Linked DNA regions of Homo sapiens. The protein of the gene in region 2 purifies or fractionates together with the protein of the main gene of each other region. This does not show direct contact. Each region holds a gene or a part of one and is shown on either strand. Other genes may lie near its edges.

Region 1 (2,729 bases), on a different chromosome or scaffold from region 2:
CTGGTATGGTATTTCTATTCCACAACATTCCCAGGGACCAAGACTTCTTCCAACTCACTGCTCTGCCACCTCTAGGGTGTGGCTCTTACCGCCGGTCTAAGATGGCAGCAGTCTCGTACCTATTCCAGGCTGCAGGATAGAGGGTGGAACAAAGGGACGAAGAGTGCACATCAGCTGTCTGACAATTTCTGGAAGGTGCCACCTAAACCTTTGGCTTAAATGTCACTGGCCAGATCTTAGTCACATGACTACATCTAGGGAGGCTGAGAAATGCAGTAGTTATTTCAGGCAGCCACATGCCCAGCTAAAATCAGAGAATCCCATTACTATGGAGAAAGGGAAAATGGGTATTATGGGACAATTAGAAATCTTTGCCACATGCATGATGGGGTGGAACCAGGATAGGAACCTAGGTCTCCTACCTCCAGCCTGGGACCCTTTCCCCTGTCCACACCAGGAGCAAGGCCAAGGTTAACAACAACCCATCTTAGAAAAAAAAAGACAGGAGGAAGTAACATTTATTGAGCAACTCATTTAATTTTCCTAACAATACGCCAAGGTAAGCAAAGCCCTAGTTTTTTATCTAAGGAGGCTCTGGGAAATTATGTCATTTGTCCAAAGCCACACGTCTAATAAATTACAGACCCAGGATGAGGACCCAGCTATATCTTCCTGCAACACCTGTGTTGCCAGTTTATTGGCAGCCTCTGCAGTTCAGGAGGACCTAGCTTGTCCCTTGGGACCACCTGACCAGGTGGCCTGGGATGAGGAACTGGGAGGCCTTGAACTAGGCATCCTTCACTTGAATTATCAGGTCAGCCTTTGAGCCTGGGAGACCAACAGGAGACAGGGGCCCTATGGAATCACAACCCAGGTGAGTGCCAGGTCTCTGCTGGCATTTGTGCCTTGGTGATGGTGCCAGCTGCCACTCCAAGACTTTGGCATAATTGGCAGGTGCCGCCCCCACCCCATCTTGCCTCTGCCTGGCGGGGCTAATGGTGCCTCTCCTTACCCATCACCCCAGCCCCCGGTTCTCCTGGCAGTACCACAGGACTCGGAATCTTTGGAAGTAACATTTCTGTCTCCCACTCCCAGCGATGACACTGGATCACTTCCCAACACAGAGCAACTGTTTCATTGTGTCTCTACAATCCCTCCTGCACATACTCACTCGATGATCCCAGCACCTGGTCACCCCTCCCTGCCCTTCAGCTGCCTCCGTCCCCATAAACACTCCCCCAGGATCCCTGCCACCCACCCACCAGGTGCATCTCGAGCAATGGGCCTCGCCACCTGAATCTGCCACAATGCAAGGTCACCAGCATTCCTGCCAAGGATGGGGAACAGGGTGACTCAGTTCCCGCTTGCTCATCCCAGGAAAGGGAAGGGGGGAAGGGGGGGAAGGGACCTAGATATTCATTTGCTTTTGCCTTAAGCTTCATCGAGAAGGAGACTCGGGCATTGCTACCAGTTGACCTAACGGGTAATCCCCCTTATTAGCTTCACAGAGTGCTAGGAGATTCACCCTACTTGAGAAAGGAATGCTGAGACCCAGACAGCGCCTTTGAGCAAAGCTGAAGGGCAGAGGCAGCCTCCAGGTGCTCTGATGCCTAGGAAAAGGCAAGCTGTCCCCCTCCCATCCATAGCACAGTTCTTGCCCTCAGGGAGACTCCAGTCTGATGAGGGGAGGCATAGCTTCTGCCCTCAGGGACCCCCAGTCTAAGGGGCCATCCAGCCCCTGACATCAGGGTGTCCTCAGTCTGATGAGGGAGGCATGGCCCCCGGCCCTAGGTGTTCCCCAGCCTGATGGGGAGATCCAAGCTGTGTCCTTAAAGAACCCCCAGCCTGGTAAACTTGTCCCAGAGGCTCCACTGATGGAGGAGACAAGGCCCCCGGCAGCCCCCAGCTGGGCTGAGGGGTTAGGGTGGAGGACCACGGGACCGCTAAACGGTCTGAGGGCATTTCAGACTGCCTTGAAGGGCAGTGGATGGGGAAGGTCAACGGGTTGGAGTGTGAGTAGGACCTGGCCCTTTGGGGTCTGGGCAGAGTGGGGACAGGTTTCTTCAGAGGAATCTCCTGTGAGTGTGTGCATGGCAAGAGTGGGAGGCCAGCGCACTTCGTCGTGATGGTGGGGGGGCATCACCATGGGGACACTGCTCGCCAATGGGGCAGAGGTGACGTCTTCTTAGCCAGAGGAAGTTGGATGGACCCCTTGCCCTTGTGAGGACCAAGCGGGCACAGAAGTATCTGGCAAGAACAGTAGGGACCAGAGGGCTATTCCAAAGAATTAAGGTTTGGGAGGAAATCTGTTAGCGAAGTCCTAGCTGAGGAGAGCAGCCAGGCTACTGGGGAAGGTGGAAAGGAGGGATGAGGCGGCAGTGTGCATGAGGGTGAAATGAAGTTATTAAAATGAATCCATCCCTGGTGCAGGCAGAACTGTGTGCCAGGAAGGCCGGGCCCTCCAGCTGTCGCCAGCATCTGGCTCTCCACAGGAGGAGAGGAGCAGGAGGGGGGTCAAAGTGCCCCCAGTGCCTGCTGAGAGTTCAGCCAGGGGAGGTGGGGAGGGCGCCCAGGGCCTCTGGCCCCATTGCTTCCTCCTCCTTCCTGCAGTCTCCACAGCACTGTGGGAGGCTGAACGGCACACGGTGGGTGTCCATTGGTGGGCTGCTCCAGTGCCAGCAGTCTCAAGCCTCCAGGGTGGGGAGCGGAGGGTGGTCTGGAGGAGGGGT
Region 2 (3,872 bases):
TCCAACTCCTGACCTCAGGTGATGCACCCGCCTTGGCCTCCCAAAGTGCTGGGATAACAGGCATGAGCCACTGTGCCTGGCTAGAACATCTTTTATAAGAAAAATGAAAGCATCCAGGAGTTCTATTTTCCCTCAAAATGTAGCAAAAATCTGATATAACATAGTTGACCAGAAAATGTACTGTAAAACTTTTTTTTTCTTTTCGAGGCAGAGACTCACTCTGTTGCCAGGCTGGAGTGCAGTGGCATGATCTCGGCTCACTGCAACCTCTGCCTCCCAGGTTCAAGCAATCCTCCTGCCTCAGCCTCCCAAGTAGCTAGGACTACAGGCGTGTGTCACCACGCCCAGCTAATTTTTGTATTTTTAGTAGAGATGGGGTTTCACCATGTTGGCCAGGATGGTCTCAATCTCTTGAGCTTGTGATCCACCTGCCTCGGCCTCCCAAAGTGCTGGGATTACAGGTGTGAGCCACCACCCCCGACCCTATTTTTTTTTAAAGAGTATCTACTTTGATATATATATATTTTTTAATCTTCACAAACCAACTCTGAAACTGACGGGACCTGGGAAGAAAAATAATCAACAATTCTAATTCCAAAACCAAGAGGAAATAAATGTCAAAGATAAGCTTCATAGACAGCCAAAAGAACTTCTAAAATGTTTTTTCAGGTGGATGAATACATTTCTGATCTGAGAAATCACAAGAAAATCTGACTTTCAAAACAATTCTAACGGACGTTTTCTCTTTAAAACAGACAGAACGGAATACTAGGAAACTTGAAAGAAGACACACTCAACAGTCTCCAAAACCATGGTCCTAATCCCAAAAGATCACTGAGCATCTCTGAAGCCACTGGGCATATAACACCAAGGCTCCACGGCTGTGAGAGTTCAGCCTCTACTTTCCCAAGCTCTTATCTTTACAAACCACCATGTAATGCTCACAACTGACATCTCCCCAGCAGTACGCCTGTCTGGAAGCCCACACATCCAAGATCGTTACCAACTGCAACTTAAATGGTCTTACCAACTCCTGTTTCCTCAACTTCATCCACATCTATGACCTGAGGGTGCTGCTGGTGAAAAGTCTCCACTGCCAACTGGAAAGACCTGGTTCTCTCTGTGGGAGGTCCAAGGGGCCTTTCGGTAGCTGCCCGGCGCGGGGAGAGGACGCTGGGCACACTGTATGTGTCAGCACCTCCCCTTCTCAGAGCCTTGTAGGAGAAGGGCGTGGTGCCCACATCCTCCAGGCCCAGACGAGTGGTCGCCAGGTCATAATCTTCATCCTCATCATCATACTCTGCCCCATCTTCAGTTCCGAGGATCACGTCTGCAGGCACCACGCCATTGGTGGTGGCTGGACTCCCAATCTCAAACACCCAGACACCCTGCTGCCCAGAGTTACTACTCCTAGGAGGAAGGACAGGCTTCTTAGAAACAGGCCAGCAACCCACCAACAGCCACCACTACCCAAGCAGAGGGAGCCCTGAGGATCTGTGTTGGTCTGCAAGCCATCACCTGCAGCTAGGACTGGAGAGTGGAAGGGCACTGGCCGTCATGTCTGGGCGTCATGTGGCTGAGGCAGTCTAGGGCTGTCTGGTGAGACTGTGTCCAAATGGGCACAATACTAGCACAAGCTCAGTCCCAGCCATTCCAGAAGTGTGCTCCAGGGACACTATCAGGACTTAAAATTCAACTTGCTCATCCTAATTGCTGGTTACATGCTCTACCTTATGAGCTAAGGTGGCTCATAGGACTGACAGTGGCTTTAGGACTGAAGTCATTCATGCTCTCCACTATCTCTTTCCATGACATGGTATGATACAATTGAAAATACATGTTTGGTCTCTGTCCTCACATTCTGAAACAAGAGCTCCTACAGCCTTTGGAATTTCTGAAGTGATAAGAGTGTCTTTTGTAGGCTAATGAGTTGACTGATGGCTGGGAGCTCCTAGACAGTTTCAGGATGGGGGCTGGTGGCCAGAAAGACCAAGGCATGATTAGAAGGTTGGAATGTCCAGCTTTCCCCACTGCCTCCAGGGAGGGGAGATGGGCTGGAGATTGAGTCAATCACCAAGGATCAGTGATTTAATCAACTGTGCCTATGAAATAACACCACCATAAAAACCCTAAAATGATGGGGTTCAGAGAGCTTCTGGGTTGAACACATCAAGGTGCGGGAAGGCTGGTGTACTCAGAGACGGCATAGAAACCCTGCCCCCTTACCCATACCTTGTCCTATGCCTCTCTTCCATTTGGTTGTTCCAGAGTTGTATCCTTTAGAATGAACTGGTAATAGTGAAGCATTTTTCTGTGTTATGTGAGCCATTCTAGCAAATTATCAAATCTGAGGAGCATGCCATGGAAACCCTCCATTTATAGCTGGTTGGTCAGAAGTACAGGTGGAAACACAGGACTTGGGACTGGCATCTGAAGTGGGGGCAGTCCTGTGGGACTGAGCCCTTAACCTGTGGGGTCTGCAGTAACGCCAGTGCTAGAATTGAACTGAAGTGTAGGACACCCGGCTGGTGTGCAGAGAATTGGTTGGTGTGGGAAAAAAAACCCCACCCATTTGGTGTCAGAAGTGTGAGTGAAAACATTGCAGACGTGGTTTTTTAGAAATCCCAACTCCAGGGCCGGGCGCGGTGGCTCACACCTGTAATCCCAGCACTTTGGGGGGCTGAGGAGGGCAGATCATGAGGTCAGGAGATCGAGACCATCCTGGCTAACATGGTGAAACCCCGTCTCTACTAAAAATACAAAAAATTAGCTGGGCGTGGTGGTGGGCGCCTGTAGTCCCAGCTGCTCGGGACGCTGAAGCAGGAGAATGGCGTGAACCCGGGAGGCAGAGCTTGCAGTGAGCCAAGATCGTGCCACTGCACTCCAGCCTGGGCGACAGAGCAAGACTCCATCTCAAAACAACAACAAAAACAACAAAAAAAGAAATCCCAACTCCATTGGCTGTGAGATCTTGGACTAGTCTCAGTTTACCTTTGGTGCTTAAAGGATATGGTGAAAAGCAAATGAGATACAAAATCCAAAAGCATTTTATAACTATAAAATATAGTAGAATATCCCTAATCTCTACTTCTTCCTCCACCATTTTTACCATTCTTCTGTGTCTGTGATTGGAAGTGCTCCTATCAGAAATTACATGAAATAATTATATTATACGGTGGACAGAGGGGACATACATTACTCAGTGGAAAATACTGAGCAAAACAATGGGGTGGGGTGGGGATGATAAATCACAAAAGTCCTGCATAAATAGGATGTCTAATCAATTTGTCTGCCTGGGATTCAAGTAAAGACAGTGGTGTGTGGGAGCTTATATGGACTAGCTTGTGAGAGCTGGCTGTTAAAGTTTTAGGAATTTTGCAAGCCAGTTATTAAACACAGCCATTCTAAACAATTAAATTACATGAACTTCCAATTAAACAAGTTATATTTTTTAAAAGGAAAAAATATTCAAAACTCATCATATTCTAATCCTTTTGCTACTGTCCATGCTCTTGAAATTATATATATTAAACCTATTTTATCTTTATGGTGAGAATATATATAATGGTGCATGTTTTCTGAACTCTTCAATGAGTGACATGACGTTAATAACTTGAACTTGGCCATCGTAGGAGTATTTACATCACAGAAACAGGCAAACGCTATAAATCAGGTTCCTCTGCCCTCATAAAACCAGTTGTTAAGCATTTACCAGCACATCACTAAGTGAAGGGCAGAGGAATTCAAGCTAGATTTGAAGATATAAAATTAAAAGGTGGTTTTAGGGGATTCACTCTTGGTTTTTAAAGAATAATGGGAGAGGAAAGGTTTTAATCTTCAAAATCCAATTTGGGCTTTTCCCTCTTTTGTCA

What was found. The genes of interacting proteins can lie anywhere in the genome.
Region 1: the proteins of NID1 (region 2) and NXPH3 purify together in Homo sapiens (co-immunoprecipitation; one large-scale study listed by IntAct). This does not show direct contact.

What each region holds. Positions count from the first base shown.
Region 1 is NC_000017.11:49,581,599-49,584,327, reverse strand, and holds the end of NXPH3 (neurexophilin-3 precursor), read right to left. Parts: 3' UTR 501-2,729; downstream 1-500. UniProt on the Homo sapiens protein: May be signaling molecules that resemble neuropeptides. Ligand for alpha-neurexins.
Region 2 is NC_000001.11:236,040,883-236,044,754, forward strand, and holds part of NID1 (nidogen-1 precursor), read right to left. Parts: intron 1,411-3,872; coding exon 1,028-1,410; intron 1-1,027. UniProt on the Homo sapiens protein: Sulfated glycoprotein widely distributed in basement membranes and tightly associated with laminin. Also binds to collagen IV and perlecan. It probably has a role in cell-extracellular matrix interactions.